Regions from separate parts of the Homo sapiens genome. Here region 1 is linked to region 2. The links come from fine-mapping of genetic effects on gene expression. Tissue or cell type: tibial nerve. Region 2 holds a variant in brackets; the other region holds the start of a gene. All regions are shown on one strand. Distances are from middle to middle.

Region 1 (5,372 bases), 78 kb before region 2:
CTGTGATCTGAATGCCTGATCTCATTCCAACTGGAGGTGAAGAGGAAGGTGGAGGAAGTGGGGAAGGGCCACTGAATCTTTCTAAATCTTCTCTCAGTTCTGTCCTATGGGTTTGGGAGTATGTGGCTCATTCGAGGCCACATGGGCATGTGTTCTTGGGGTATGACCACATCGGCTCCTAAAGAAGATGCTCTCTGCGTGTGTGTGTGTAGAGTGCAATTGTAGACAAGCATATGACTGTGAATGTTTGTCAGCAGCCATCTATGAACTAGTTCTGCGCCTGTGAAAGAAGGAACCTGAATACGAGAAAATATCTGCCATCGGCTGTTTTCCCAAAGTTATTCTAGCCACCAAGGCCTCCGCCGTGTCCCAGCCTCTGTCCCCAGGCCTAGTGCCTCTCCATCAGCCTGGATCAGGGCAAATTCCCTGCCCCCAACTCTTCCCACCAGGGCCGGACCTGAAGGCCAAGGCCTCCGGGTATGTGCTCAGGACTCCTGGCCCAGAGAAGGTTTTTCCCTTTCTGCGTCTTTGCTTCCCCTTCCGCTTTGGGGTTCAGGAACCCCGATTCTCTGGAAGAAGAGAAGGCCTAGGCTACTGAGCTGCTCTGGCTAGAGACGTCCTTGAGTGTCTCTCTCTCCCGGGCAATGGTGGCTGTGCTCTGGGGGGCCCAGGCCTGCCTCCTGTGGCTGCGTTCAAGGCAGCTTGGAGGTCATTTAGGCCAGCTCCCCCGGGTTCCCCGTGGGCTCAAATCAGGACCCAGACCCTTCTCTCTTGCCACAGCTCTGGGCCACCTGGGACTCGGGACTTCCTGTCTCCCTTCCTACTCTGTCCTAAACCATTGTTCAGAGGCCTGCCGCCTCCAAGAATCGCCGAGGGAGAAGCTCCAGGGGAACTGGCCTGCCCGCATCCCCACTGCCAGTAGCGCTCAGGGTCCCAGGACTCGGGTCTTGCCAGACCACAGTGTCCCCTGGGACCCTAGGGTCTCTGGCTCCGCACTGTGTTGCGCCAGTGCGCCTGGATTTCCCGTGAGCTTTCGGCCAACCACGCTCCGGGCTTCCCGCCTGGCTCCGCACCTGCGGCGCTCTCACCTGCGGCGGCGCCGCCCGAGGAGCCTCCCAGCCGGCGAGGAGCGAGGCTTCTGCAGTCCTGCTGTCCCGCAGCCCCGCAGCCCCGCAGCCTCGCAGCCCCGCAGCCCCGCAGCCCCGCAGCCCCGCAGCCCCGCAGCCCAGCGCCAGAGCGCTGCGCGGAGACTCCTTGCCGCCGCACGCCCTGGGCCGGTAAGAAGCATCCGCTTCAAATCCCGCCCAGCGGGCAGCGCAAAGCGAGCGGTTTGGGGAAATGCCGAAGGGACCGGGAAAAACAAACTCCAAGTCGAGTTTAACAGCCGAAACGCTCCGTGCCTAGGCCGGCGGACAAGAAGGAGACAGAACAGATCCCTTGGCTCCCTCGCAGCGATCGATCCCGTTTACCGACCAGAGTCACCACCCCGCCCCCAGCCCGCCAACTCATACCTCCCGCAAGCCACCAGTTTCAAGGGATGCGGAAGCCAAGCACCCCGTGGTCCCCAGCACCAGGTGACCCGCACGTGCACTCACCGTAGCAGGGAACCTGCAAGGCCGCGCTGTGGCCGCTGCTGCCTTCCTGGAGTTTGAGGCTGCCGTCCGGGGGCGTCTTGCAGGCGCCTCGCTGCAAGTAAAGATGCGGTTGCGCGGGCGGCTGGGGCTGCGGCTGCTGCTGCTGCGGCTGCGGCTGCGGCGGCGGCTGGGGCTGCGGGGTCGACGGCTGGGGCTGGAACTTGTTAAAGGAGCCCCGCGCCCCAGCTCCACTCTCCAGGGGTGTCGCCAGGTCCTGCTGCCCAGCGCCGTAACGGGCCCGGCTCTTGGCGTCCCCGAATCCCTGTGCTTTGGCGGCGGCCGACAGGAAAGTTGTGCCGAACTTGTCGCCTCCGGGAAATGCCCTAAAAGGCGACGAGCCCTCCCGACTCTGCGACACCGGGCTGTAGTAGGCGTCCATGGCAGCGGCCGGCGACTCGCAGTAAGAGACGCAAGTCTCAGCATTCATGCCTGGCTTGCGCAGGCGGCGGGCGGGGACGCGAGCGAGGGCGCGAGGACGCCACCGCGCGCCTTGGCTGGGAGTTTGGGGAGGCGAGGAGGCTGTGGCTGTGCACTCCTTGCCCGGCCTGCTCGCTCTCCCTCCTCCCCTCCACGCCGGCCTCTCTCTCTCTCCCCCTCTTCTTTCTCTGTCTCTCTCCTCTCTCTCCCTCCTCTCTCTCTCTTCCCCTCCCTCCCCCCCCCTTCCTCTCTCTCTCCCTCTCTCTCTTTCCTCCCTCCCCACAGCTAGCCGAGGGAAAGAACGGAGGGCAGTAAAAAGATTCAGATGTTTCGGAAAGTTGACCAGATCTCCCAAACCCTCTTAAGGTTTTGCAGCGGAAAAAAAAAATAAGTAAATTTTTTTCCCTGCCTTGCTTCTTCCTTTCCCCCTCTCTCGTCCCCTCCTCCTCTCTCCTTCCACTGGCCCCTGCCCCCTCCTCTCCACTCTTAAGGAGATGCTACTAACTCGCTAGCGGGGATTCAACCCGGAGGCGCCCGAGGGCTTTTCCGATTCTAGGCGGGGCTGGGGAGATGCCAGGATCCCCAGGGCTCCCGAGGCTAGGCTGAGAATTGGCGGGGTGTCGGAGCTTTGCCTTAGGGCAAAGGGAAATGCAAATTTTAATGACAGGTTAAAAAAAAGCCCCCCAAAATAAACCTAACAGGTTTTGACATTCGAAGCCAGGGGGACCACGGGCCTGCGGATGCAAGCGAGTCCTACGGACTCCTGCGCGCGAGCTCGCGGGCGCCGCTGCGGGCCTTCCCGCTGGCACCTTTTCCTAGGTTTCCAACCTTCCTCCCCATTCCCGTTCCTACGGGAGATTAACACACACACAAGCCTTCGTCGTCCAGTGCATGGTCACTTGCACGTCTTGTTAACTATTTCCCTCTGCTGTAAGGGCGCTGGGCTGGGATGTAGCGGAATCTGTGCTCCCTCAAGCCCTGGAGAAGCCCTGGGCTGGGCCCGGCTTCAGAAGCTTTAGAGCGCTGCCCTCTGCGCTCCCGTCTAGAGGCCGCACCGTTCACGCCCCACGTCTGCGCCCAGGCGAGGGGATTTCCTGCCAGGCGAAGTACAGAGAGCGGACTCTGGAGACCCCCTGACCTTGCCCGATAGTCGCGCTGTCACCTGTTCACTCCTTGGGGTCAGGGGTCGGGGAGAGGGGTGAGACCGTCTCTTCCCTTTCTGGCCTCACTGCCCCCGACTGTAAAACGAACTGCTTGGTTTTGATAGGTTGTGGTTTCACCACCACTGCGAGCCTCAAGGCCCCTGGCACCGCCACAGCAAGGGAAAAAACTTTGCGCGTGCAGCCCCTCGATTTCGCTTCATGACAACCGTGCTAGAGATTGGCGCCCCCAATTTTCTGATGAGCTAACGGAGGCTCAGAGAGGGGCGGCCACCTGGTCCAGGTCACACAGCTGGGAAATAGCCGTCGCGCCCTGGAACCTCTGCTCAGGCTAGTCCCTCCACCGACCTGGAAGGCCGTGCGGACAGCGTAGATGCAGAGGGGAAACTGGCCCCCGGCTGTGGAATGGTTCAAGTTGAAGGAGACCAGCGAGAGCAGCCTTCCTTAAACCGCTGAGAAAATCGTTAAGCGAGAACGTACCTCTAGGGAGTCTGGGAGTAGGGTGAGAGGTAAAAGTGCAAGGTAAAATTAAAGAGGGCCTGAGCACCGTGAACCAAGGAATGTGGGTCAGATGTCAACTTTCTGCATCTAAGGTCTCCCAAAGAAAAAATATACCTGGGGGGTCGCGCTTCTGCTCCCAATCTCATCTGGGCTAATTCTTACCCCCACCCTACCCCCTTAGTATCTCTGGTCCTTGCTCCGCCGCCGACCGCGCGATCCCACATCTGGTTTCCATCGCCGGCTTACCTTGAAGTGCTCGTTAATAAAGATATTCCGCAAACCAAGCCAGGAGCGCGCAGGCTCCAGCCGCCCCCCACTCCATGCCCAATGGGAACCGCGCCTCACTGGCCCGCAGACCTAAGCCACTTGAGAGTCCTTTATTTATTGAGCTCCTGTTGTGCCAACAATCTGGCAATACAAGGCTTATCATACCCATTTTGCATATGGGTAGACTGAGACTCAACCAAAATAATTTTCCAGTTAGCAAAAAGCGGAGTGCTCCTGCCATCATCCTAAATGCTCCTGTCCAGCGGTTTCTTCAAGTTCCTAGAACCTGCCAAGGTCTCTAGCCTGTGCACTGTAGCATAGGTGGTTTCCCCTACCTGGAATTCCCTAAACTCATTCCTGCACTTTTGTCTGGCTAATGATTCAGAGTTCAGCCTAGAGCATCTTCCTCTAGGAAGACTTCCCGTCTCTCCTAGTTTAAGTTGACGCTTCCGTTTGCCTCATCTCCGTCCCAGATCTCGTGGTTGTCTGGTTGCCTGGCTATGAGTGTATCTCAACCCCACTAGTTGCCCCAGGGCAGCCTCCTACGTGCCTGGCACCCCACAAATATTTGTGGAATAAAAGATTAAACCTGGACCAGGCGCGGTGGCTCACACCTGTAATCCCAGCACTTTAGGAGGCCAAGGAGGATGGATCACAAGGTCAGGAGATCGACACCATCCTGGCTAACACGGTGAAACCCTGTCTCTACTAAAAATACAAAAATTAGCCAGACGTGATGGCAGACGCATGTAGTCCCAGCTACTTGGGAGGCTGAGGCAGGAGAATGGCGTGAACCAGGGAGGCAGAGCTTGCAGTGAGCCGAGTTTGTGCCACTGCACTCCAGCATGGGCGACAGGGCGACAGGGTGAGACTCCGTCTCAAAAAAAAAAATAAATAAATAAAAATAAAATAAAATAAAGATTAAACCTGGGGCTGTAGGACTCTATCACCTCAGTGTATTCCAACTGCTCAGTGCAGCACCAAGTTCTGAGACTCTTTCTTTGGTTTCCCTTAGTCAAGGACAGCTGGTCACCCACCCACCCCCTCTTCAAAAATCAAGTAGCGGAATTAACAGCGTGCTGGACCTTCCTGAGCCTGTGCCTTGAGAGCAGTGAGTTTTCTCACAGCAGGGGCCAGGTCTGTCTTGTTCGCTGTAGGGCTTGGCACTCATAAAATGCTTGTTGAGTGAATGAATGAAAGTGTCCTATGGTTCCCAGGGGCTTAGAGATGCATTTTTTTGTCAAGGAGTTCCAAGCCAGCCGCCTACTCCAGTCTCCTGTGCCCAGCAGCTGCCTGTAGGCACCCAGAAGGTGGTGGCAATACCCCCGCTTCTTTCTCCACCTCCATTCCTGTCTAAAAAATGAGGGAAGGACTATGAGAGGCAAATTGTGGT
Region 2 (5,372 bases):
TGTCTGGTCCACCAAAGAGGCAGAAGAAGGAAAAAGTTCCAGAGAGAGAATTAATAAAATCAAGGGAGGGTCAAGAGGTCAAGAAGTGGAGCTGGATGGAGGAGGCTGAGCCTGTGGGCATTGGGAAATAAGCTAATAGGGGCCCCTGGTCAGGTTGGACAATTAGCAATGGAGTTGTGTTTCTAATTACACTTCTGATCTCAACCTGTTTGGTTAGTGAATGAAATGAGGTATTGAGAGTAGGTGGGAAGTCGCTTTGAAAGTAGGGTAGGCTTGCAGGAGAAAGTGATTTATGAAATCTTCATTAGGGGCTGTTGGCTCATCACTCTGGCATTTACGTAGGTTGCCTGAATTTCTTCTTTTGACTTCCTACAGGGACTCTTGAAAGCAAGGTCCTCTTGATGTTTGCTCAGATCTCTTCTAGTCCTGGGGCTTTTCACATCTGTCTATAAGCCTGAGTTTCCCAGGTGACCTGTCCAGCTAGGGTGGCCCCTCTGGGCTCCATCTCCATCCTGGGCCACTCAACATCACCCCATACGGTCTCCCTGCTTCTCTTCAGGTTCAATTCTTACCTGTCCTTGATCTCTCCCCACACAGCCCACACTGGCCTTTCTGTCTCTTAAACATACCAAGCTTGGTCTCACCTCCAAGCCTTTGCCCGTGCTGTGCCCGCTGTCTGTAACACTCTTTCCCCAGATCCTCACAAGCCTTTTTCATGTAGGGCTAAGTTTAAAGATATCCTCCTCAAAAAGGCCTTCAGTGGCCACCCCATCTGAGAAACAGCTGTAGCATTGCTTTCTTCTCTTTATGGTGTTTGAAAACAGGAAATTATTTATTTACTGTGTTGAGATGTAGTGTCTATTTTATTAATGTAATATATGAATTTGGCTTTAAAAGTGAAATAATATGATAAAAATAATATAATATTAAAAAAGCAGCCTCCTGCCTGCCTCCTATTTGCTTTTCAAAAGCAACCATTTTTAGTTCTTTTAGCCGCTATTGCTATTAATATTTGCCTCTAGATTTCTTTTTCTGTTTGTTTGTTTTTTTGAGACAGAGTCTCTCTTTGTTGCCAGGCTGGAGTGCAGTAGCACAATCTTGGCTCACTGCAACCTCTGCCGCCCAGGTTCAAGCGATTCTTCTGCCTCAGCCTCCCAAGTAGCTGGGACTACAGGCACACGCCACCATGCCCAGCTAATTTTTGTATTTTTAGTAGAGATGGGATTTCACCATGTTGGCCAGGATGGTTTCGATCTCTTGACCTCATGATCTGCCTGCCTCGGACTCCCAAAGTGCTGGATTGCCTCTAGATTTCTAAATATTTCCTGTATTAGAAGTTCTTGACATCTCTATTTTATACATTACCCACAGTTGTTCTACTGAAGGTTTAACTTTTACACACACATACACACAGGACCATAGTCGCCCTCCATACTCTCTGAATAATTTATCACAATTTTTAATAAAAGTCATTATTCAGCTCTTTATAATCATGACTATGAAAATATTGTTTGAGGAAAAGCCATATGAAATAATGGAATTGTTTACTTTATTGCATAATTTTTGTGTTTTTTTCTGCAGTGATTCAGCAATTATTAAATTGCTTCTTGTGCTCATTTTCTTAGCTTTTCATGTGCCCGTCATTAATTCTTCCCTAAACTCTCTGACAGCACTTTAAAATGTCTCTTAATATGAACTAGCACATGAGTCAGGCCAAAAATGCCACGTTTTAATTTCTTGGAGACAAAGCTCTGGGAGCTCCACCATGTCGTACTCCAATGAGGATTGTTTGATTTGGGGGCACAGCTGTAGTTCTAGAAAATTCCATCTTGTTGGATCCTAGATCCCATTGTCTTGGTTTACACTGCTCTTGGATTAGCACACATTGTTGCAAGAGGTCAAATAGTAAGTATTCTCGGGTTTGCTGGCCACATAGTCTCACAACTATTAGACTCTGCCATTGTTGTGTGAGAGCAGTCAAGCATAAATGACTGAGCATGGCTGCCTTCCAATAATATTTTATTTACAAAAACAAGTGATGGGGTGCATTTGGCCAGCAGGTCATAGTTTGCCATCCCCTGGCTTACACCCTCTTTTTGATAGAGCTCATCCTTCAGTAGCTTCTTGAGAAAGGGTGCCTCGGAGATAGTTTTAAAAAAAATTTGCACGTCAAAAAAAGTCATCATTCCACCTTCATGTTTGATTGACAGTTTGGCTGGATATTTAATCTGAGGCTGGAAGTCACATTTCCTCAGAATTTTTAGGCCATTCCTCTGTTGTTTTCTAGAGATTTGTGTTTCTGCTGAGAAGTTTGATACTATTCTGATTCTTGGCATATGATTTAGTGTTTTCTGTCTAAAAGTCTTTAGGATCTCTTTATCCTGGGGATTTTTGAAATTTCCTGATGATATCCCTTGATGATTTTGGTTTTCATCCATTGTCTGGGCAAATAATGGCTCCTAAAAAACATCTCATTCTAATAATCCACAGCCTTCAGTTTGGGGAAAGTTTCTTGTATTATTTCTTCAATATTAAATGCTCCCCACCCACTCCATTTCTCTACTCTCTTTTTCTGGAATTAATGAGTTAGTTGCTGAAATTCTGGGCTGAATTCACTACTTTAAATTTTTTTCTCTTATTTTTTCTTTATCTTTTTTTGGTCTTTTTTTCTGAGTTATTTCCTTCTCTCTATCTTCTATTGAATATTTTATTTTAGCTCTTACATTTAATTTTGAAGAGCTATTTCTAAATCTGTTCCTTTTTATAACTGCCTGTAGTTTCATGGATGAAATATCTTCCCATATGTTACGAGGATATAAATTATAATTTTCTTCAGCTTTTTCTTTTGCTTCCTGAATTTATCTGTGTTTCCCCGATCTCTTCTTCCCTGCACCCCTGTTTTGTTTTCTGCTTTTCATGTCAGAGGATTCCTTGGATCCCTGGTGATCCTTGGCTGTTTGCATTGGAGGAATGCTCTGTAAAGCTGGCTGGAAGCCTGTGAAAGTAGGCAGTTTGTGTGGGATTATTGGAGAGGGACCCAGACCTTTAGTTAGGAGTTCCCCAAATTAGTATCTCTCCGTCTCTTTCTTTGGGCTGAGGATTTCTACAGAGATGGATCCGCAGTCTTTTTCCTCTTTTACCTGGTTGGGGGTAAAACTTGGGCTTCCTGGGTTCTGGGAATCACGTGGGGAGAGGGGAGTAGAAGTTCCTTCCATTTCACTCTCCTGCTTGCTCCCTAAATCCAGGGTCTGTCTGCTGCAGTTTTTCCTGAGTGTCACC[C/G]CCACCTCCAGGCATCACTGGTGCATCAAACTCCCAGCTTTTCCTGAATTTTGTGGCTCAGATTGGCTTCTTTCTTTTGGGCACTCCCCTCTCCGGCCGTTGGGTTTCAGCTTTTCCCGTCTGCAAAGTCAGTTCTCTTTCACTTTCCATCTTTCAAGAGTTCTTTGACCCCATCCCCTGGCATCTTCCCCTTTTCCTTCCTCATTGCTGTTGTCGTTTGAGGGAAATTTTAGGAAGGAGTGGAGATAAACTCACGTATCTAAGTGGAAGTTCTCTTTATTCTGCTCTTGTCTGCCTCCCTGCTGGGCACCAAGGGGGCAGGAAACTTGTCAGTCTTGTTTGTGGCTTAACATCATCCAAAGGGGCTGGGCAAATCTTAGATAAAAGCTGGCCCAGGAGAGGACACCTGGGGCTATGTGGGGAGTTCAGGAGGTGCAGTGGGCAAGACGAGCCCCCCTTACCAACTCCTACTTGAAACAGCATCTCTTTCATCAATTTCTACCCACCCATTCATATACCTCATCTTTACTGAGCCTCTACCATGTGCTTGGCAGTGTGCAAAACCCTGGAGAGACAGCAGTGGACAAGACATACATATAACCACTGTCATCATGGAGCCTGCAGTCTAAAGGATGAATTGTTACAGTCAGGTGGGGTAAGCACTTAGGAAAAAATACACACACTATGGTCCAGGGGGCTGAAGAAGTGAGAGTTAAGACCATTCGGATGGTCAGTGGAGATGAAGCCATCCTGTTGAGGAGAAGCCTGGCTAGACAGTGAAGTGTCCTGGGCAGAGGGGACAGCAGGTGCAAAGCCTGGTGTATCAGTTAGCTACAGCTGCATAACAAATTATTCCAAAATTAGTGGCAAAACAGCAACATTTATGATCTCACACTTTCTGTGGATCAGGAATCTGGACATGGTTTTGCTGGGTCATTTGGGTCACTAGGTGGCCATCAAGGTGTCAGCCAGAGCCAAAGTCATTTTAAGGCTCAATCAGGGGTGGATCTGTTTCCAAACTCACTCAGTTAGACATTTGCATGATTTGGTTCCTCCCAGGCTGTTGGACCGAAAGTCTCACTTCCTCCCAAGCTGTTGGTTCAACTGGTTCCTTGCTGTGTAGACCCATCCACAGAGTGGCTTACAGCACAGCAGTTTGCTACATCAGAGCTAGAGGTGAGAGAGCAAGAGTGTGAGCAGGACAGAAGTCACAGTTTTCTGTAGTCCCATTTCGGAGGGTCACTTTTGTAGCTTCATCCCATCACTGTTGCTTAGCAGTGGTTAGAAGGGAGTCACTATGTCAAATCCACACTCAAAGGGAGGGGATTTCACAAGGGCATGAGCACCAGGAGGTGGTGATCACTGAGAGTCATACTATTTATTTATATTTTATTTTTTGAGACAGGGTCTCACTCTGTCACCCAGGCTGGAGTACAGTGGTGCAATTACGGCTCACTGTAGCCTCGAACTCCTGGGCTCAAGCAATCCTCCCACCTCAGCCTCCTGAGTAGCTGGGACTACAGGCACCCACCATCATGCCCAGCTAATTTTTAATTTTTTTTATTATACTTTAAGATCTAGGGTACATGTGCACAACGTGCAGGTTTGTTACATATATATACATGTGCCATGTTGGTGTGCTGTACCCATTAACTCGTTATTTACATTAGGTATATCTCCTAATGCTATCCCTCCCCCCTCCCCCCACCCCACAACAGGCCCCAGTGTGTGATTTTCCCAGCCCTGTGTCCAAGTGTTCTCGTTGTTCAGTTCCCACCTGAGAGTGAGAACATGTGGTGTTTGGTTTTCTGTCCTTGCGATAGTTTGCTCAGAGTGATGGTTTCCAGCTTCATCCATGTCCCTACAAAGGACATGAATTCATCCTTTTTTATGGTTGCATAGTATTCCATGGTGTATATGTGCCACATATTCTTAACCCAGTCTATCATTGCTGGACATTTGGGTTGGTTCCAAGTCTTTGCTATTGTGAATAGTGCCACAATAAACATACGTGTATGTGTGTCTTTATAGCAGCATGATTCATAATCCTTTGGGTATATACCCAGTAATGGGATGGCTGGGTCAAATGGTAT

Alleles and levels. Positions count from the first base shown, and alleles are read on the strand shown. Sizes are in standard deviations (SD) of each study's normalised expression.
As copies of G replace C in region 2, the expression in tibial nerve of the gene that starts at base 2,138 in region 1 goes down (small effect, 0.22 SD a copy in GTEx).

What was found. PIP is the estimated chance that this variant, and not a neighbour inherited with it, causes the effect.
Region 1: it holds the start of ALX4, and the variant in region 2 is the best candidate, but not a certain one, in a credible set for the expression of ALX4 in tibial nerve (GTEx, PIP 0.62).

Annotation. Positions count from the first base shown.
Region 1 is chr11:44,308,002-44,313,373 of GRCh38, forward strand. It overlaps ALX4 (ALX homeobox 4), which reads right to left and starts at 2,138. Exons shown (of 4, transcript NM_021926.4): 1 at 1,596-2,138. The coding sequence starts at 2,061. RefSeq lists an enhancer at 2,116-3,044.
Region 2 is chr11:44,386,033-44,391,404 of GRCh38, forward strand. No RefSeq gene overlaps it. Among named protein-coding and RNA genes, the nearest start is that of ALX4, 79 kb to the left of the region's middle. The variant C/G (reference allele first, on the strand shown) is at 3,280.